3 separate regions of the Homo sapiens genome follow, and regions 1 and 3 are each linked to region 2. Evidence: fine-mapped expression QTL. A gene starts in region 2. Each other region holds a variant in brackets. All regions are shown on one strand. Distances are between the middles of the regions.

What was found.
Region 1: its variant is fine-mapped to the expression of HIKESHI in nasal epithelium (TOPMed, PIP 0.97).
Region 3: its variant is fine-mapped to the expression of HIKESHI in whole blood (TOPMed, PIP above 0.99).

What each region holds. Positions count from the first base shown.
Region 1 is chr11:86,358,348-86,366,047 of GRCh38, reverse strand. It overlaps LOC105369421 (a long non-coding RNA gene), which reads left to right. Exons shown (of 5, transcript XR_007062826.1): 3 at 5,721-5,834. Among named protein-coding and RNA genes, the nearest start is that of CCDC81, 13 kb to the left of the region's middle. The variant T/G (reference allele first, on the strand shown) is at 3,955.
Region 2 is chr11:86,298,254-86,305,953 of GRCh38, reverse strand. HIKESHI (heat shock protein nuclear import factor hikeshi) reads right to left here and starts at 3,714. Exons shown (of 5, transcript NM_016401.4): 1 at 3,476-3,714. The coding sequence starts at 3,505.
Region 3 is chr11:86,376,417-86,384,116 of GRCh38, reverse strand. All of the region lies in intron 1 of CCDC81 (coiled-coil domain containing 81), which reads right to left. The region is part of intron 2 of LOC105369421 (a long non-coding RNA gene); the gene reads left to right. Among named protein-coding and RNA genes, the nearest start is that of CCDC81, 5.4 kb to the right of the region's middle. The variant T/C (reference allele first, on the strand shown) is at 4,819.

The sequences.
Region 1 (7,700 bases), 60 kb before region 2:
GCCTGGCTTTGGTATCAGGATGATGCTGGCCTCATAAAATGAGTTAGGGAGGATTCCCTCTTTTTCTATTGCTTGGAATAGTTTCAGAAGGAATGGTACCAGCTCCTCTTTGTACCTCTAGTAGAATTCGGCTATTAATCCATCTGGTCCCGGACTTTTTTTGGTTGGTAAGCTATTAATTATTGCCTCAATTTCAGAGCCTGTTATTGGTCTTTTCAGGGGTTCAACTTCTTCCTGGTTTAGTCTTGGGAGGGTGTATGTGGAAAATGACTAAGTTTGTGCTGACATAAACAAAGCAAATTACTTCCATATGTTTGTTTAAAAAAAATAACTTTCCTGCAAAGAAATGCCAGGTTTATATGGCTTTAATGCTAAATTCTTACAAATAATTCAAGAACAAATAATACTGGATTTACACAAACTATTCCAGACAATTAAAAAAGAAGAGACATGTCTGAACTCACTTTTTAAGACTGGCAAAACATTGATACCAAAATATGACAGTACAAGTAAGGAAATTTATAGTCTAGAATCTCTCTTGAACATAGATATAAAAATCGTAACAAAATATCGATAAATTGGCAGGGTGTAGTGGCTTATGCTTGTAATCCCAGCACTTTGGGAAGTCAAAAGTGAGAGGATTACTTGAGCCCATGAGTTTGAGACCAGCCTGGGCAACATAGTGAGATCCTGTCTCTAAAAAATGTGTTTACATTGGTGGCATGCATCTGTAGGCCCAGCTACTCAGGAGGCTGATGTGGGAGGATCAGTTGAGCCCAGGAGTATGAGGTTACAGTGAGCTATGATCACACCACTGCACTCCAGCCTGGGTGACAGAGCAAGACCCTGTCTCAAAACAAAACAAAACAAAACAAAAATCAATAAATGGGATCCAGGAATATAAAAAAATAATAACATACCATAACAAAGAAGGATGTACTCCAGGAATAAAAGGTTGATTTAACATTTAAAAATTCTGTCATTATAATTCACCACATTAACAGAATAATATGGGAAGAAGGGGCAGAATAAAATCATCTTAATAGGTGAAGAAAATATATTTGATAAAACTGAACATGCATTGATGATTTTAGAAAAAAATCCTCAACAAAGGAGAAATTGAATAAAACATCCTTAATCTCAAAGGGTTATCTAGTAATAAAACCCCGTAGCTGTGTCATTATCAATGGTTAACATTTTCTCCCCAGAGTCAAGAATAAGATGGGGATCTTTACTACCACAGCTGTTATTCATCATTATGCTGTAGGCCCAAGAGAGTTCTACAAGACAAGAAAGAGAAATAGAAGGTATAAAGATCAAAAACAAAAAGTAAAACTGTCTTCATTTATGTATTACATGATTGTGAAGACAGAAAATCTGAAACTATACAAACTATTAGAATTAATTTAGCAAGCTCTCTGGATACGAAGTCAGCACATGAAAACCAAGTATATTTCTATATACTATCAAGAAATGATCAGAAAATGAAATATTCTAAAATGTAATTTATAGTAACATTAAAAAATCAAATATTTAGGAACAAATTTAAGAAGAGTTCCACAAGGCTAATAGTGAAAACTACAAAATATTCCTGAGAGAAATTAAAAGTGACCTAAATAAATGAAGAGCTATATCATGTGCATGAATCAAAAGACTCAAAATTGATAAGATGTCAATTTCCCCCAATTTGATAAGTAGATTCAATGCAAACCCAACCTATAAAAACCCACATAAAATATTTGGTCGACATCAACAGGATAAATCTTAAATTATATGGAAATGCAAAGAACCTAAAATAGCCAAGAATAATCTTTCAGAAGAATAAAGTTGAAAACTTTACTATCAGATTTCGAGACTAACTATAAAGCGGCAGTAATTAAGACAAGGTGGTATTGGTGCAAGGAGAGGCAAATAGGCCAATGTAACAAAACAGAGTCCAGAAATACCCTCTACATATACATCATTTAGTTTATAACAAAGGTGTTACTACAATTCAATGGGGAAATGATAGTGTTTTTATTAAATGGTACTTCAACAACTGTATATCCATATGGGAAAGAAAATAAACTCTAACTCACAACAAATCCAAAACTTAATTCAAGGTGGATCATATTCTCTAATGTGAAATCTGAAACAGAAAGCTTTAGAAGAAAACAGAATAACTTCATAACTTTGGGGTAGACAATGATTTCTTAAACATGACAGAAAAAGCTCTAACCTTAAGAGACAAAATTGATAAATTTGACTTCATTAAAATTGAGAACCTCTATTATCAAAATACATTAGCAGGAAATTGAATAGGCAATTACAAAGTAGGAGAATATATTTGCAATACTTATATCTGTTAAAGGATTATATACATAAATAACTCTACGGATCAATAAGAAAGCTTTTTAAATGGGCAAAACACTTGAACAGGCACTCTTCAGAAAAGAAAGATAAACAAACATCTACCTTATGATGCAGCAATTCTGTTCCTAATTATATACCCCCTAAAATAACATATGAAGTACATATGTCTGTAAAAACTTTTACAACAATATTTAAAGCAGCTTTATACTTAATAACCAAAACTTGGCAACAGCCTAAACATCCACTAGCAGGTGAATGTATAAACAAATTGTTATTTATTCATACAATGGAATATAACACAACAATAAAAAAATAAACTACCACTGATATACAGAACATAGATAAATCTCCAAAATATTATGGTGAGCAAAAGAAGAGAGACATAAGAGTACAAACTGTATGACTGCATTTATGTGAAGCTTAAGACCCAGAAACTAACCTATTTGATAGAAGTCAGAATATTTATCTCTGCAAAGTAGAGTATTGACTGGGAGTTACTACAAGAGAGCTTCCTTGGAGGCTAAAAAATGTTCTGTATCTTGATATGATTGGTGGTTACAAAAGTGTATGCATTTGTAAAAATACATACATACTTAAGATTTATTTATTTTACTGTGTGTAAATTAAACTCGAATTTTAAGAGTATAGAGTGGCAGTTTACATACTCTCTCTCTCTCTCTCTCTCTCTCTCTCTCTCTATATATATATATATATATATATTTTTTTTTTTTTTTTTTTTTTTTTTTTTTTTTCTAGACAGAGTCTCGCTCTGTCACCCAGGCTGGAGTACAGTGGCACGATCTCGGCTCACTGCAAGCTACGCCTCCCGGGTTCACACCATTCTCCTGCCTCAGCCTCCCAAGTAGCTGGGACCACAGGCGCCCGCTACCACGCCCGGCTAAGTTTTTGTATTTTTTTTAGTAGAGATGGGGTTTCACCGAGTTAGCGAGCATGGTCTCACTCTCCTGACCTTGTGATCCGCCCGCCTCGGCTTCCCAGAGTGCTGGGATTACAGGCGTGAGCCACCGCGTCTGGCGCAGTTTACATACTATTTGGCACATTCCATGCACAGGCTTTGTGCAGCATGCTCTTTGGTATCAGGATATTCAAAATGTAAACCTTCTTAATCCCATCTAGGGACAAAATATAGCATAGTGGCTAAGAGTTTGGGTCTAAGAGTCAATTATTCTTAACAAAAATTTGTTGAGCTCCTTATTATGTGCCAGGCTCTGGTCTGGGTAGTGTGGTAATAAGCAGCAAACACAACCAAGAGCTTGTCCTAACAGAGATCATAGTCTAGGAGGAGATACAGACAATACAAATATAAATAATATAATAATGTTACAAAGAAAAATAAGGCAGGACAATTGGATGCACAGTGAGGTGTCTATTTCAGATGGATTAATGTAGCTTCTCTAAGATTACATTTGAGCAGAGACCTGAATGACGTGAAGAAGCCAGCCATGAGAATCTTTAGTGGAAAACTAAACCCTAGGCCTTTAATTTTGCTATTCTGGAAACCCTGAGCAGGCTATTCGATTTCTCTGTGTCTCTGTTTCACCATCCATAAAATGTTTATTATTTCCAGATGGTATTAAGGAT[T/G]AAGTGAGATATATGTAAAGTGCCAACACAGTATCTGACATATCATAAGGATACAATATATAATTATTGTGTAAATCATGGAATAAAATGCAAACAGAATGCATCAGTGTTATAGGGTAGGAGCTTTTGCTTATTCTTTTTTTTTGGTTTTTTTTTTTTTTTTTTTTTTGAGATGGAGTCTCACCGTGTTGCCCAGGCTGGAGTGCAGTGGCACAAACTTGGCTCCCTGCAACCTTCATCTCCTGGGTTCAAGCCATTCCCCTGCCTCAGCCTCCCGAGTAGCTGAGATTACAGGCACCTGCCATCACAGCCTGCTAATTTTTGTATTTTTAGTAGAGACTGGGTTTCACCATGTTGGCCAGGTTGGTCTCAGACTCCTGACCTCACATGATCCACCCGCCTCGGCCTCCCAAAGCGCTGAGATTACAGGCATGAGCCCCCGTGCCTGGACACTTTTGCTTATTCTTCTGTATAAATAGTGTAAGTGTTCCATAAGCATCTGAGGTTCAGTGTATTTAATGTAATACCAGTTTTGCAATGCATCAGTTTCAATACACCTCTAGCACAGAAAAGGACAAGAAAATGGGGAAGCTAAAGAGCAAGGACTGGCTAAGGAAAACTGAGTATTCTGAGGGATAGAATCATAGTTGTTACCCTAAACAGATGGCCCGCTTTTCCAAGGTCAGGTCATATGATGCAGAATTGAGACAATCCCAATAATAAGCTAAACAATTGAATAACCATAGTTAAATCCAAATCTGTTTGTACATTTTTCACACCTTTGTTCATTCTATTTCCTCCACCTGAAATACTGTCCATTCCCAGCCTACAACCTGTGATTCCTAGAAGGCAATGTGCTTTCTTAAGCCTCTCTACTTCTGGTGGTTCTTTCTTAAATTGGAATTCCCCTCCCAATCTCTATCCTGTCCTTGGGTGCAAGCCTCAACTGTGGTTAAGGACGCCCTCCCCTGCCTATCTGTATAGCTAGGTTAGGCGTCCCTCATCTGGGCTTGCATTTCCCCAATATTTCTTGAATCACTGTTAAGTAAAAGAGCTTCCTAAATATGCAAGTGTTTGGGAATGTCCTCAGGATCCTTGTCCTCCATTCTATACATAAAGCACCATCTGGTGGTGAAAGAAGATGACTATACTTCTAGGTCACCAAGATGTGTTTTCTGTTTTCTGAGCTTTCAGAGAGCTTTTAAAATCATGTTAGAGGAAAAAAGCCACACTGACTTGCATAGAGATGTACCTATTGCCAAAGAACAGTTTTTCTTGAGTGAATGTTTTCTGCTTTCTTGCTCACTTCCATTTTCTACCACCCTTCTCCCTGTTTCCTTCCATCCTTATTTCTCAATTTCTTTCTCCTACATTTCAACTGGCCCACTGAAAACACAGTTCTGGCCAGGCACAGTGGCTCACGCCTGTAATCCCAGCACTTCGGGAGGCTGAGGCAGGTGGATAACTTGAAGTCAGGAGTTTGAGTCCAGCCTGGCCAGCATGGTGAAACCCTGTCTCTACTAAAACTACAAAAATTAGCCTGGCGTGGTGGCGTGTGCCTGTAGTCCCAGCTACTTGGGAGGCTAAGGCAGGAGAATGGCTTGAACCCAGGAGGCGGAGGTTGTGGTGAGCCGAGATCGTGCCATTGCACTCCAGCCTGGGTGACAGAGCTAGATTCCACCTCAAAAGAAAAAAACAGTTCTGGTTGGCATTTGTTTTGTTTTGGCTGCCCTAAGAGCCTCCACATTTCCTTTTGGAATTCACAGATCTACATTGTGTGTAATCTTAGTGGGGCTGCCATTCCTGGTGACTACATTCCATTACCAAAGCCGAAGGAAACAGATCCTTGCCCTCCTTGACTCTGCAGGACCAGGGGCCAGGTATGTGACCCAATATCAGTCATCAGATGCTCTTTCTGGGGCTCAGACTGTTGAGCTGTTGACAGGCAGACAGCAGGAAAATGTGGAAGTTATTTCCACAGGGATGGTATGCACTTTTCACTATCTTGCTTTAAGAAAATTGCCTGGGTTCCTAATGGCCAATCCCCCAGATCCCTCTTGATTCCTGCCCATTTCCAGGTCTGATTGTCCTAGCTCCCATCACTCTGAGCATCCCAACAGTCTTCCAATAATTTCCTTCTGCTTCAGTTAGTCCAAATCAATATCTGTGGCCTTGTCTGCTTACAAGTTTATAAAACCACTAAATATCCAACTAGTGTGGTGGCATAAAAGGAGACTATCCACCCCTCCACCCCATTATCAGAGAATAAACTTGAGGATTAAAGAGAAACATTTAAATCCTAGCTTTAGTTAACCAGGTTGCTTAAGTAGAGCCATGTGCCGTTAATGTGAGGGTCCTTTGAAATGGAAACCAGAAAAAGGAAAGGACAAATGTCAATAGGAAGATTAGATGTTTCTAATGTAGATTAGATTGCAGAGTGATGGAACGAAAATTAATCCTCAATTAATCCTCATAATGGCACATTGATTTGTGGTACTTTAGGGGGAAACCAGCTGCAGCTGGAAAGCACTCAGTGGACTCCCCCTGTTCTTCAGTCTTTACAGAATCTCTCTCCCTGAAGAGACAAATGGAGACAAAAAAGCAGAAAGAATACATGTGTACATCCAGTGGCTATATTAAGCAAGAAAATCTATGAAATGCAAAAGAAACTAGGGGCTGAAACTTTATTCGGAGGGCTAAAGGGTGGTTTGTGTAAAAGAAACGGAGAATTGCTCCTGAGATAGCCTGTCATCTGATGGCTTATGAGGTGAGGTTCTGCCTTCCTCTTGCTTAGAGGTGGGGAGAGACTAGACCAAAAGCTGAATGCCTGATCTCTGCCTATGGACTCCAAGTGACTCAGGAATGTTCACTTGACTCTTTAGTAAAGAACAGCTTGAAGCTCTATAAAGGTCTAGTTTGTACACAGAGAAAACAACCTATTTGGATCAGGGAAGCAGAACCCCACTCCATATGGCTGCTGACTGGCCTCCCCCTCACTGTGGCTCACTATAGAGGAGAAGTGTCAGTAGCTGGAGAGATTGTAAGGCTGATTCCCTTTCTGACTCCCTGGGATATCCCTTTCTCAGAAATACAGAGAAACTGTCAACGAAAGAGTTGACACTAGAAAATAAGTAGGGCATACCCAAGGGCATACTCAGTCACTGTGTCAGAGGCGTTTGAACCAGAGTGACTCCATTTTGAGTGAGGGCTAGGAAAATAAGACTGGGACTTGCTGGGCTGCATTCTCAGAAAATGAGGCATTCCTAGCCTCTAAATGTTTACGGTTAAGGGAACAAATTAATAATGTTTCCTAAACAGACCCAGACTTGGGAGTGTCCAGATATCCTGATATCTGGAGAAGAAAGGCATTCCTGATTTTGCTTTAAAGATAATAGTATCAATTCTTGCAAAATATAGTAATTAAGAAAATTAATCCTTTATCACAAACCCTTGTAGCAGAGCACATCTCCCCGTATATACAAGCATTGTACCTAGGGTGGACGCATTCCTCTTCTGACTTTCAGGAACGTCCTACTCTTATCAATGGAGTAGCTGTTCTTTCACCACTTTATTTTCTTAATAAACTTGCTTTTACTTTGCACTGTGGACTCGCCCTGAATTCTTTCTTGCATGATATCCAAGAACCCTCTCTTGGGGTCTGGATTGGGACCCCTCTCCTGTAACAACTGGTCCTCACTTCAATGCTTTATTGGACTGCTTTTGTTATTTGAGGCTTGAGGGTGTTA
Region 2 (7,700 bases):
TTGGCCAACATGGCAAAACCCCATCTCTCCTAAAAATACAAAAACTAGCCAGGTATGGTGGCTCATGCATAAGTATTCCCAGCTACTCGGGAGGCTGAGGCAGGAGAATCGCTTGAACCCAGGTGGTGGATGTTGCAGTGAGCTGAGACCATACCATTGCACTCCAGCCTGGGCAACAAGAGCAAAACTGTCTCAAAAACTAAAAATAAAATAAAAATAAAAATAAATTATTTCAGAGGTGCCCTGAAAGGATTTTACTTACATAAAAAATAACTAGGCCAGGCACGGTGGCTCACGGCTGTAATCCTGGCACTCTGGGAGGCCAGGATCACACGACGTCAGGAGTTCGAAACCAGCCTGGCCAACATGGAGAAACCCCATTTCTACTAAAAATACGAAATTAGCCAAGCGTGGTGGCACGTGCCTGTAATCCCAGGTACTCGGGAGGCTAAGGTAGGAGAATCACTTGAACCCAGGAGGTAGAGGTTGCGGTGAGCTGAGATCGCGCCATTGCACCAGCCTGGGTGCAAGAGCTAAACTCCGTCTCAAAAAAATAAATAAATAAAAATAACTATAGCTTCAGAATGTTGTAAAAATGAAAGGTTATTCAAAACACATCACCTAAGCTCTCACCCTCCAGCTTAAAGATAAAGGGGCCAGGCACAGTGGCTCATGCCTGTAATCCCAGCACTTTGGGAGGTCGAGGCAGTCAGCTGGCTTGAGCTCAGGAGTTCAAGACCAGCCAGGGCAACATGGCAAAATCCGATCTCTACAAAAACTACAAAAATTAGCCAGGGGTGGTGGCATGCGCCTTTGGTCCCAGCTACTCGGGAGGCTAAGACCAGATAATCACTTGAACCCAGGATGTCAAGGCTGCAGCAAGCCGAGGTCCCGCCACTGCACTACAGCCTGGATGACAGAGCATGACCCTGTCTCAAAAATAAATAAAAGAATCTCAGGTAATTAAAACAGGTAAGCAATCCAGAAGTAATTAGGCAATCCTCCTTATTCACAAATCCTGTATCTGAATTCACCTACTCACTAAAACTCACTTGTAATCCCAAATCAATGCTTGCTGCATTTCTGCAGTCATTCATGGACATACTCATATGAACAGTAGTAAAAAATGTGAGTTGTAGGCCTGGCACAGTGGCTCATGCCTGTAATCCCAGCACTTTGGGAGGCCAAGGCGGGTTGATCACCTGAGGTCAGGAGTTCCAGATCAGCCTGGCCAACATGGCGAAACGTAGTATCTACTAAAAATATAAAAATTAGCTGGGCATGGGGGCACATGCCTGTAGTCTCAGCTACTCAGGAGGCTGAGGCATGAGAATTGCTTGAACCTGGAGGCGGAGGTTGCGATGAGCAGAGATCACACCATTGCACTCCAGCCTGGCTGACAGAGTAAGACTCCGTCTCAAAAAAAAAAAAAAAAAAAAAAGTGAGTTGTGCAACTCACACACTGGCAGCTGAGGTAGAACATGCCATCTTGTTTCAGTCCTCGTAATATGAAAAAGTGTCCTTTTCACAGTCTCATCTATTTAAAGCATTTTTGTGATTTTTGTTGGTGATCGTGCTGTTTAAAATGACCAAGTTCAAGTGCTGGCTAGTCTTCCTAAGTGCAAGAAGGCTATGACATGCCTTACAGAGAAAATATGTGTGTTAGGTAAGTTTTCCCTCTATAATATCCTATCTACCGATACAAATAAACTTAGGAAAAATATACTGCTATGTAATTTCAACTATCTATTAGTTATAAAGTAGTATCAACTGGCTGCCCTAAATTAAGTCTCAAGATACAAAGGCAGTGTTCCTAAAGTCAAATTCTGATTCCCTCTTCAGAAGTATTCTGACCCACTTTAAAATCCTCCAGCTTTAGTATAAAGAATAAAACAAAGGAATAACACAAACCAAATGGCCTGTATTAGTATTAAATTCAATTTCACCAGTCTTTGGCATGCATATAACCTAAAAAGCATGGGAAATTATTATTTATGAGTCTTGAAATAACCACCAGGCAAAATAAATATTTCTTAAGTGTCAACTTTGTATAGGTACTGAACAGTCTGCAAATCTGTATCATCACACTCTAATTTTTGACATTAAGAAAAGGTGTATCTCTTTAAGAAAAAAAATCTTAAGAAATAAAAACTGGGTTCATAAGTTTAGATAAGTAGATTTTTCTTATAACAGAGTCGTGTAGTTAAGTTTTGAGATGCCACTAGGTCTATTTGTCCTTCACTTTGATGTGTCCTAATACTCCATAATTAAAGGACCAAGTATCCCCAATATATAGAGGCAGGTATTACCATAACTAAATTTCCTTCCAAATTAGTTGACAACGTGAGAGATACATGGATTCCAAATAGGCTTTTTATTCTTTAAGAAACACAATTTTAATGTCATTCATTAATAACACTCACTCGTCTGAGTCACACAATCATTCCAGGTTTGTCCTTTTTCCCTATTAAGAGCAGGGCAAAATTATCTCACCAGGATTATGAATTACCACCATCACCACAGGGGTCTCCCAGTCATTCAAGAGACAAACTTTATGAGGCTAGTCATCTCCAACTTATCTTTCTGGCTTCTTAGAACTGTATATGTACAGAATACAATACATTATCAAAACTTGATGGGAAAAAAAGACAATTCAGCAAAGGGACTGCAACATTTTAAAAAGCCAGGAGAAAAAAGAAGGAAAAATACTTCTAGGGGAAAGGAATCAGGCCTGAAAATTGATGTCTGTGTGGTTTCTAAGGAAACAAACAAGATTCACCTTCCAGATTATTCCTAAAGAATTCCAGGTGCTGTTCTCATTTACTCTAACAATTTGGCAAGGTAAGTTATCTATTTTGACCCATAAGGAAACACACTACTCGCATCCTTCTCTGGTTATCTCAGATACGGCTCACACGTTAAGTTTCAGCCAACTTCCAATTAAATTAAGCTTATTTTTACTCGGGTTCTTCCAAAGGGACCCAAAAGATATACATTCCCTGAGCACCTTAATCTTTGAAAAACAGTTTGCTATAGACCAAATTCAATCCCAAATTCACCTCTACCTCAAGTTAATAAAGAAGGTATTTATACTGGCGATTGAACTTAGTTCTGTAACTGCAAAATGTCAAAGATAAAGACCATCTCACGAGTTATGAGGATTAAGTTCAAAGTGCCAAATAAGCGCCACACATAAGGCTGAGTGACCAAAGGCGTGCATTGCACTTAGCCCAGTACTTGGTACAAAATGCACACTTAATAAATGCCAACTTATACTGTGACTACTATTCGAAAGAATCTGAATAGAGCTGGGCAAAGGAGAGCACCCAGCTTCCCACGCTCCATCCTCACATACCCACCCAAAATATAATAAGTGGGCTTCCCCGCATCCCTAGCGCCTGCGCACCCTCCCTGCCGTAGGGCTTCGCCCTCGGTATCCTGACCCCTTCCTGATATCACCCGGTCCCATCCTCACCAGCCTCCCCGCCACCAAGCAGCCAAACATGGCGACGGCAGCTCCGTTCAGCCGGCAGTGACCTGAAGCCGGCGACTAGGAGTCCTGGGGCTACTGCCCTAGTCGAGACTAAGAACCTTCCAGAATTTGCGGGAGGGTGTCTGCCCCTCCACTACATAGTGACTGGGCCAGCGGCAAGAATGCCTCTGCCCCCGCGAACTCTGACCTTCTCTTCCTAAGCAGCCCACTGCTCAGGCAACAAGTACTTCCGGGGCTTACACCCGGTTTTCCCCACTAAGGAAGAAAGGCGGGCCAGCGCCAGTACAAGACTACAAGTCCCAGAACAAGTCCCAGAGGGCACCGCGCCAGTTTCCGGGAAGGTAAGCCTGGAGGCTTTGCACACTGGGATCGGTAGTCCGGGTGTTTTATAGCCACAAAATCTGTGGATCCTTCATTTCCATGTACAATCCTGGGAAGAGATGCTTCTAACGTTTCTGTGACATCTGAGAGATTAACGGTGCACTTTTACAATAATCACGTCACTAGATCTTTACAAAAACCCTATGAGGTAAGTATTATAATCCAAATTTTATAGGAGTGATCAGCCTCAAATCTTTACACAGCAGTAAATGTTGGAGGCTGAATTCAAGTCCTAATCCAAATCCGGGTTTCTTTCTGCTACACAGTGTCTCAGAAGTATTAATCTTTAACCAATTGTTTTGTACTTGTCTACAATTTATAGTAGTTCTTTCCAGCTTCACTTAGTTCTCCCATTCATTTGCTGTACAATTGTGGACGAGTTGTAGATGTCTTTGTGCTTCAGTGCCCCTCCTTTGCAAAAGACAAATAATGAGCCTATTGCCTAGGGTTGCTGTGAGGATTAAATGAGCTAATATGTATAAAACACTTAAAACAGTGCTTGGCTGTGCTTAATTAGTGGGAGTTTTATTGTAAAAATGTCTATTTTTTTTCTATGTGGATCTGCAGAAAAGTTTCATAGGAAATACAAAACAATAGCCAAAAAAAAAAAAAAAAATACTGGCATTAAGTACCGATTGCCACCAATACTTATTCTCCCTTTCACAGCTCCAATTCCTTTTCTTCTTGAATAGGATAGTAAAGGGTCTCTGTCCAATTTGAAATATCTGAGCTTGGCCACCAGCCGTAAAGCAGGTCTGTCTTCCCAGTTCTCAGTTTATATATGGGGGATCAGTGTTTGGAACAGTCCTCTGGCCTCCACTGTGGATCCCTAAACTGATCACCTATCTTATCACCGATACTCCTTTGAGATAGCTGTGCCAAAGGTGAAGAGGTAGGAAAGGATCTACCAATGTTTCCAACTTACTATCTAAAAAGTCCTAGAACCTTCAGAATAAAAAGGCCATTCATATGAAGACCACTTCATAAATTAAGGCACCCACACTACCTGGGTTCAGAGCCCATCTCTGCCATTTATTAGTTACATAATCTCAGGCAAGTTAACCTAACACTCCCATACCTCCTTTTCCCCATCTTTAAAATGAAGTAATAGTAGTATCTACCTCATAAAGTTGTTTTGAGGGTTCTTACACGTAAAGTACTCAATAGTGGCCAGAATGTAGCTTACTCAATAAATGTTAATATTTAGCATTATTGCCTTTCCTAACTAATTTTCCATGTCTTCTTCATACCCACCTTGTGCACTAGCCATACTTTTGAATTCTCTGAGCAACTCCTACTTTTAAATTTGTATGTGCTTATGCAACTTGTTTTATCTCCCTGTAATATTCACTTGGTTATTTCTTACACATCCTCTCACTTTTCTTCACTAACCTTTCTATGACCCACCTGATAGTCATTTCTTCTCCTACCCAGCAATCTTATATTTAGTGGATTGAGAACTAGCTAGCTTAGAATTTTTTTTATAAATTACAGATGATGTTTATTAATTGTCTCAATCTCTGTTATGTGAGATATGAGCTTTTTCTCCATTTTGCTGGTCAACTGTCTTAGTTATAGATTGTACAAAGAGTTAGAGGCAGTGAGTACAGTATCATATCTCTAGAGTAGCCAGTATTCCAGCTACCAAACTATATTATTTGTACATACAGTAGTTCTTTGTAACTTCTGCGGGCAGAACTAGATACAGTGTGAGGAAGTGAAAAAATGTTTCAGGGAAAAAAATCTTTCCAATAATCAGAGCTCTCTGAAATAAGAATAGATAGTCATGGAATAGAGTGAATGCTCCTATTCACATTGATATTGTAACCAATGCTGAAATCCACTTACATTGTTGAGGAGACTTACGGAAAATTGGGGAAATTGGCTGAAAACCTCAGAGGTACTCCCCCCCATCTCAAACTATATGATTCTATGGAGTAAGAACCAGTTATAGTTTAATTGTGGCCAGGGTATCAGGGATTCTGAATCCTGGTGTTAGCTCTTCATTAATTAACCTAATGATGAGATCATTTATTTTATCATTTTGGCCATTATGTTTCTTCCAATTCTAGGTTGAATTCTGACTTGAAGAGAGCAAAAAAATATTTTTTCTCTTCTCTGAAAAATTTTTCTTTACAAAACAAGGAGAACAACAAATAGACACACAAACTCTGTCTTCCCTGAACTGGGAGATATCTGTAACCCCAAGTCACAACAGATATCAATGGAAAGTAGATAAAAGAAAGGCAAATGACTTAGCAGAGGCGTGGAAGATCAAACTCAGGTACTACAGAGAAAGATAAATATCAGAGAAGCTCAGGAACTGGAGATATCAGGGGCCACAGAATGCAAGGGTAAGACAGGTAGATTGCTTAAAATCAGTGTTAAGATGTTTATATCTGTTCCTCATCCACACCTTGCAAAAGGCCACTGGTATGAAATCTCTGTGGAAAAAAATTAAATCAGAGGCACCCTGGGTACTAGGAAACCATATACTGAAAAAAAGTGGTTGTAAATTAAGGCCACCATGTACAGATTCGGTCCTAAATAAGGACACCCAAATGAGAGAGGAGTCCTTGGTCACCAAGTCAAACATATCCCAGACTATGTCCACCCAAAGAGGGGTGGCTTTTTCTGAAGCATCCACGTGAGAGTGCTTTGTACTATATCATCCATGCAGAGATAGCTCTTTTTTACATCCCTCATCCATAGGGGAAAAGGGTCACGTTTTAAGAATTGATGGAAAAATCCAACACTCTTTTCATGATAAAAACAGTCAACAAACTAGGAATAGAAGAGAACTTCCTCAACCTGATGAAGAACATCTACAAAAACTCCGCAGCTAACCTCATACTTAATGGTGAAAGATCAGGAACAAGACAAAGGTGTCTTTTATAGCTGCTTGTACTCAACATTGCACTGGAAGTTCCAGCCAAGGCAATTAGGCAAGATAAATAAAACTGGAAATGAAAAAGTAAAACAATCTCTAGTCACAGATGACATGATCTTTTTATTTTTTATTTTTTTTGAGACTGAGACAGAGTCTCACTCTGTTGCCCAGTCTGGAGTGCAGTGGCGATCTCAGCTCACTGCAATCTCCACCTCCCAGGGTCAAGCGATTCTCCTGCCTTAGCCTCCCAAGTAGCTGGAACTACAGGCATGCACCACCATGCCTGGCTAATTTTTGTATTTTTTGGTAGAGATGGGGTTTCACCATGTTGGCAAGGCTGGTCTCGAACTCCTGACCTCAGGTGATCCACCCAACTCATCCTCCCAAAGTGCTAGGGTTACAGGTGTCAGCCAACACGCCTGGCCAACATGATCTTGTATATAGAAAATCCTAAGGGATCCACTAAAAACCTATTAGAACTAATAAACAATTTCAGCAAGATTGAAGGATACAAGGTCAATATACAAAAATAAATTGTGTTGCTATACACTTGCAGTGAACAATCCAAAAATGAAATTAAGAAGATAATTTCATTTAAAATTCTCATTTAACAAAAGAAGTATAAAGTATATACTCTGAAAACTACAAAAAATTGTTGTAAGAAATTGATCTGGCTTGGACATTTGTCTCCTCCAAATCTCATGCTGAAATGTGAACTTAATTGTTGGAGGTTGGCCTAGTGGGAGGTGTTTGGAGCATGGGGGCAGATCCCTCGTGAATGGCTTGGTGCTATCCTTGCAGTAATGAGTTCTCACTGTATTATTTCATTCAAGAGCTGATTGTTTAAAAAAATAAAAAATAAAGAGCCTGGCATCTCCCTTGCTCCCTCTCGCCATGTGATATGCCTGCTCCCCCTTCCGCTTCCGTCATGATTGT
Region 3 (7,700 bases), 78 kb before region 2:
TCTAAAAGCTCGTATTTTAGGAAAACAACTACACTGAAGATGAAATGATTTCATTAGAGCCAGGAGAAAGTGTATAGTTTGCAACCAAACCCCAGTGAAAAGACTCAGCTGAGTTTAATTGAAAATTTGAGGATTCTGTCTTTCTTCATTTGGATGATATATTCAAGCCCACTGTACTGTTTTATTCCATAAAGCCTAACAGATAACATTACATAAGAGCAGAACTAATTATTCTAAACTAAAATTTGCTATTTCTCATTGAAGAGAAAGAAAACTATGCATATCATTTGCCTTAGGAGGCTTTAGGCCCCTGCAATCCAATCGGAATAGATTTGGAAAGCTTACAGACTGTAATTTCTAAATTTGACGTTTTCTGACATCCCAAAGAGTCAGAGAGGATATCATTAAATCTCAAAATGAAAAATATCAAGTCTAAAAAGCAAATTGAAGGATATACTACTTTCATATTTTAAGGGAAGCCAGGGTTCTTACTTATTTCAATCAAACACTGAAATGCCAAGAATCACTCTTATAAAGAACTAATCCCTAGACATATACTCTATATTCAGTTCAACCTTCATTTGGCTTCAAATTCTTAACATTCCATGCGCTCAAAACCATATGTTTAAACACCGTGCCAAGTAACAGGATACTGTATCTTACATATGATCATTATTTAAAAATCCTACATGCCTGTTCTGTAAATTATACAATACTATATGCTTGAAAAAGTCATTAATGTCAAAAAACAGATATGTTTCCTGATGTTATAAAACTTATCTTCTAAAATTAAAATACTGATATATGGAATAGTATAGCAGAATAGTAAAGGATGATTTGAACAAAGAAACATATTCCCAGAGCATAATGCAATGGAAAGAGCAGTGTGCTACGTGGAAGACCCACAGCCTTCCTGCTTCCATGGACTCAACTTTTACCCAGTTCACATCTGTAAAATGATGACAGGGCCTTCTAAGAACTATAATTACATAATATTAAACTTTGCTAAAACATACAGAAGCAGCAGGAATATACAATGATGAATATATACACTGATGAAAGTTAATTTATGTGTTTTGCTCAGTTTGAAGTTTATCTTCATCCTTGTTGCAATAGATAATTTGTGAAAGGTAATAAATAGTAGTTTGACTTTCACTTCAGCTCTTGCTGAAGTCACCAATGGTCTCTTTGTCAATACATTCAATAAACGTATTTAATTCTGAGCCCTCAGCCATGTCTGACACTATTGATCACTCCCTCCCCGTTTAAGCACCTCTCCTTTTGGCTTTTATACTACTACTCTCATTTGGGTTTTCTCCTAACTGTCTGGCCATTTCTTCAGTCTCCCTTGCAGGCTTATCCTCCTCCACCCAACCATTAAATGGTAGGGTTTTTCAAGGTACAGTCCTAGGTTGCTTCTCTTTTCACTCTATACTCTCCACTTCAGCAGTCACACCCACACTCAGGATGATTCCCAAATGTTTATTTACAGACCCAGACTCCTTGCCACCCCCTCTTTGAGATTCTGGACCCGTTTATCCAACTGCCTGCTTATATATCACAAAAAGGCCCTTCAACTTGCCCAAAACCGCAATCTTTCTTCTCTTAAATCTTGTCTTTTATCCAGGATTTCGGTCTCAGTGAATGGCACCACTATCTATTCAGTTATATGAGCCAGGAACTCAGAAGTCATCCTTGAGACTTCTCTTATCCCTCACCCCTAACATCCAGTCCATCACCATAATCTGTAGATTTTACCTCCAAGTTGCCCCTCATTCATTGCATTCCTCTGCATTTCTACTATTACCAGTTTTAGACCAAGCTACCATTTGTTCTCACCAAGACTATTGCTATAGGTATTCTTGACCCTCCTATTCATTCCCCACATGGCAACCAGAGTAATCTTTTCCAAATATAAACTGATCATATAATTCAACTTCTCCTTGACCTCCAGCTCAAAACACTTAATGGCTTCCCATCAGGCTTAACATAAAGGTCAACATCCTTAATATGACTTACAAGGCCCTGTATTACTTGACCCCTTCCTTTCTCTCTAGCCTACTTTAGAATACACTGCCTCCCCACATCTACAGAGCAGCCAGTCAACTGTCTTTCAGTTGCTCCATCACATCATACTCTCACCATAAGTTTTTGCCCCTGTCATTCCCTTTGCCAAAATCATTTTCAACTCACTTCCACTCTCTACCTCTCTGATCCATTTCATCTACTTAATTCCAACTCATTCTTCACAACTCAGCTCAAATTATCCCTTCTTTAGCCATTCTTGGCACACACCCCCATCCTTACTCTCTATTAAATGTTCTCATTTGACTTCCATTTCTTGGTGCTGTATGTAAGGAAGTCACCACTCCATCCTAACAACTAAAAAGTTGACCAGACAGAAAAATCAACAACTCTTCTTGGGTCCATAAGATGAGGGAGGACACAGGACAAACTGCTGCCCCTAAAATTGGAGAGACAGAAAGGCAAATACCAGGAGGAATGGCTTCCTGAAACGGACTCACATGCAGAAACAGCATCAAGAACCAATGCTGGGTAAGAAAACTCAAAGTGTAATTGACAAATTTCTGGAGGCTCAGTGTGGACAACACCAAGAGTTAAAACCTCCAGGGGAACCCAGTCATGGAGGGAGGGTCCCCACATATTTTAAGGTTTACTTCCCAGAGCTCAACCAGATTCCCACAGCCAAATATCCAGGTAAATATAAGAGAAAAATCTCCTTGTGCTTCAGGTGGGAGGAAGAAAAAAATACCATTTTTAAATATGCCAGAGTACTCTGTTGTCCTTAATGACCTGCCCTCAGAAGAAACTAGTTCACCAGAGCCTAACCTGCTGGGATATTATCAGAGCCTAACTGACCTGAGAGAAGGAAAATGACCAACTCCAGTCCACTTTAGCCATTCTGTCCCACCTAAGGAGAAAGGAAAAATCTGAGAAACATTTGTAAAGTTCACAGTCCAGAGGCACAGGCTCACTAAAAGACTGAGACCTGATCATAGGACTATAGAATGCTTTCCCACCCCCCACACTCTACCCCTACATTACTAAAGGCCTATTTATAGCAGTTACTTTTACCCAGTACATCACTTCCAGCTATCAAGAAAAAATTACAAGGCATACTAAAAGGCAAAACATACAATATGAAGAGACAGAGCAACCATCAGAGCCAGACATGGCAGGGATGTTGGAACTATCACACTGGCAATTTAAAACAACTATGGCTAATATGCTAAGGGCTCTAACGGATATAGTAGACAGCATGCAAGAACAGATGGGCTACATAAGCAGAGAGATTGAAATCCTAAGAAAGAACCAAAAATAAATGCTAGCAACTAAAAACACTGTAACAGAAATGAAGAATGCCTTTGATAGGCTTACTAGTGGACTGGACATGACTTAGTAAAAAATCTCTGAGCTTGAAGATGTGACAAGGAAACTTCAAAAGGAAAGCGAACAAAGACTGGAAAAAAAAAACCCAGAATATCCAAGGATTGTGAGGCAACTACAGAAGGTGTGTACCCATAATGGGAATACCAGGAGAAGAGGGAGAAATATTAGAGGAAATGCTTGAAACAATTACTCAGAATTTCCCTCTAATGTCAGACATGAAACCACAGATCCAGGAAGCTCAAATAACACCAAGCTGGATAAATACCCAAAAAAAGATACCTAGGAATATCATTTTCAAAGTACAGAAAATCAGAGCTAAAAACAAATCCTGAAAGAAGCCAGGCAGAGAGAGGGAAAGGAACACCTCATCTATAGAGAAACAAAGATGAGAATTATATTGAACTACTTCTCAGAAACCAAGCAAAAAGAGAGTACCATAAGACATTTCAAGTGTTGAGAAAAAGAAAACACCAACCTAAAATTCTGCATCCTGTAAAATTATTTTTCAAAAGCAAAGGAGAAATTATTTTTCAGACAAACAAAAATTAAGGGAATTAATTGCCAGTAAACCTGCTTTTCAAGAAATGTTAAAAGATGTTCCTCAGAAAAAAGGAAAATGATGTAGGTCAGAAACTTGGATCTGCATTTAAAAAAAAAAAAAAAGGGAAGACCATCGAAGAAGGAATAAGTGAAGGTAAAATAAAAACTTTTTTTTTCTTTGAGACAGGGTCTCATTTTGTTGCCCAGCCTGGAGTGCAACGGTGCAGTCTTGGCTCACTGCAACCTCCACCTGCTAGGCTCTCAAGCAGCCCTCCCACTTCAGCCTCCTGAGTAGCTGGGACTACAGTCGTGTGCCACCATGTCCATCTAATTTTTTTGGTTTTAATTTTTTGTACAGACAAGGTCTCACTATATTGCCCATGCTGATCCTGGACTCCTGGACTCCAGCGATTCTCCCACCTTGGCATCCTAAAGTGCTGGGATTACAAGCATGAGCCACTGCACCTGGCCTATTTTTATTATTCTTAGCTGACCTAACAGATAGCAGTTTGTCTAGTAATAGCAATAATGTATTCAATTATGTATGCTTATGCATATATCATATATATTTACATTTATATATAAGTGAAATGAAATGAATGACAGCAATGATACAAGGGATGGGAGGAAGGAATTAAGATTTTGTTATTATAAAACAATCACACTACCTGTGAAGTGGTACAGTGTTATTTGGAAGTGGACTTGAATTGACTGTAAATATATATTGTAATCTAAGGCAACTACTAAAATTTTTTTTAAAAGTATAACTGGGCCTGGCACGGTGGCTCACACCTGTAATCCCAGCACTTTGGGAGGCTGGGGTAGGCGGATCACAAGGTCAGGAGATCAAGACCATCCTGGCTAACA[T/C]GGTGAAACCCCACCTCTACTAAAAATACAAAAAATTAGCCAGGCATGGTGGCGGGTGCCTGTGGTCCTAGCTACTGGGGAGGCTGAGGCAGGAGAATGGCATGAACCCAGGAGGCGGAGCTTGCAGTGAGCCAAGATCACACCACTGCACTCCAGCCTGGGTGACACAGCAAGACTATGTCTCAAAAAAAAAAAAGTATAACTGATATGCTGAAAAAGGAGAAAATGGAATCGTAAAATGCTCAGTGGAAAATAAAGATGGGTACAAAAAACAAGGGCAAAAAGTAGAAAACAATAACAAATATGGTAGGTATTAATCTAGCTATATCAGTAATCACTTTGAACATAGGCTAAGTGTACCAATTAAAAGACAAAGATTGCTGGAGTGGACCAAAAAACAAAACCCCACTATATCTTGTCTAAAAGAAACCCAATCTAAATCTAAAAACATATAGATTAAAAGTAGATGGATGGAGGAAAATACAGCATGATAATACTTATCAAAAGAAAGTAGGGGTAGCTATATTAATTTTAGAACAGACTTCAAATCAAGGAGAGTTGTCAGAAATAAAGAGCATTACATAATAATAGAGGGGTCAATCTTTCAAGAAGACCTAAGAATTTTTAATATGTATGCACCTAAAAATAGTATGTCAAATTACATTAAGCAAAAACTAGTAGAACTGCAAGAAGAGATAAATGAATCCATTATCATACTTGAAGACTTCAGTACTCACCTATCAGAAATGAACAGATCCAGCTGGCAGAAAATTAGTAAAGGCATAGTTGAACTCAACAGCACCATCAATCAAATGGATATAGTTGATATCTACAGACTAGTTCATCCAACAGCAGTAGAATGCACATTCTTCTCAAGCTCACATGGAACATTCACCAAGACAGACCATGTTCTGGGCCATAAAACACACCTTAACAAATAGAAAAGGATAGAAATCATACAATGCCTGCTGTCAGATTACAATGGGATTAAAGTAGAAATGAATAAGAGAAAGATAAGTGGAAAATCCCAAAATACATGGGGACTAAATAATATGCATCTAGATAACACATGGGACAAGTCAGAGGACTGTCACTACCCAACTTCAAGATTTACAATAAAGCTGAGTCATCAAGACAGTGTGTATTGACAAAAGAACAGACAAATAGATTAAAAGGACACAAAAGAGAGCCCAGGAATAGACCCATATAAATACAGTCAACTTATCTTTGACAAAGAGGCAAAGGCAATACAATGGAGCAGATAGTCTTTTAAACAAACATTGCTAGAACAACTGGACATCCACATGCAAAAAAAAAAAAAAAAAAAAAAGAACCTAGGCACAGACCTTACACCTTTCACAAAAATTAACTTAAAATGGATCATAGACCTAAATATGAAGTGCAAAACCACAGAACTCCTAGAAGATAACATAGGACAAAACTTAGATGATCTTGGGTATAGCAATGACTTTTTAGATAAAACACCAAAGGCATAATCCAAGCAAGAAATAATAAGATGGACTTCATTAAAATTTAAAACTTCTGCTCTGTGAAAAACAATGTCAAGAGAATGAGAAGACAAGCCACAGACTGGGAAAAAATATTTGCAAAAGACACTGTCATGCAAAATATACAAATAACTCTTAAAAACACAAAGAAAAGAAAAACTCAATTTAAAAATGAGCCAAAGCCCTTTATATATATCTCATCAAAAAATGACAAGCATATTAAAAGGTGCTCCCCATTATTTATCATCAGGAAAATGCAAAATAAAACAATGAGATACCAATACACCATCTATTAGAATGACCAAAATCTAAAATACTGACAACAACAAATGCTGACAATAACATGGAGTGACAAGAATTCTCATTCATCGCTCTTGGGAATGCAACATAGTACAGCCCCTTTGGAAGACAGTCTGGCAGTTTCTCACAAAACTAAACATCCTCTTACCATACAATCTAGCGATTATGTCCCTGGGTATTTACCCAAGTGAATTGAAAACTTATATCCAGTTTTTTAAAACCTGCACACAGATATTTAAAACAGCTTTATTCATAATTGCCAAAACTTGGAAGCAACCAAGACATTTTTCAGTGGGTGGACAGATTAAAAAAAAAAAACCTGTGGTACATCTAGATAATGGAATATTATTCAGAACTAAAAAGAAATGAGCTATCAAGCCACAAAAAGACATGGAGGAATATTAAATGCATATTGCTAAGTGAAAGAAGCCAATCTGAAAAGGCTTAAACTATATGATTCCAACTATATTACATTCTGGAACTGGCAAAACTATGAAGACCGTGGAAAGATCAGTGGTTTCCAGATTTTGGGATTAGGGGTAGGGGTGAATAGGCAGAACAAAGGGGAGTGAAATACTCTATATGACTATAATGATAGATACATGTCATTTTACATTTGTCCAAACTCATAAAATGTACAACACCAAGAAAGAACTCTAATGTAAACTATGAAACTTGGGTGATTTTGATGTGTCAATGTAGGTTCAATTGTAACACATGTACCACTCCGGTGAGGGATGTTGACAATGGGAGAGTCTATCCAAGTGTAGGATTAGACAGTATGTGGGACATCTCTGTCTGATATGGTTAGGCTTTGTTTCCCCACCCAAATCTCATCTTGAATTGTAATCCCTAGGTGTTGAGGGAGAGGCCTGGTGGGAGGGGATTGGATCCTGGGAGCAGTTTCCCCCATGCTGTTCTCATGATGGTGAGGGATTTCTCACAAGATCTGAGAGTTTTATAAATGGCAGTTTCCCCTGGTCCCCCGGGCTTCTCTCTCTCTCTCTCTCCTGCCGTCATGTAAGACATGCCTGCTTCCCCTTCTGCCATGATTTTAAGTTTCCTGAGGGCTCC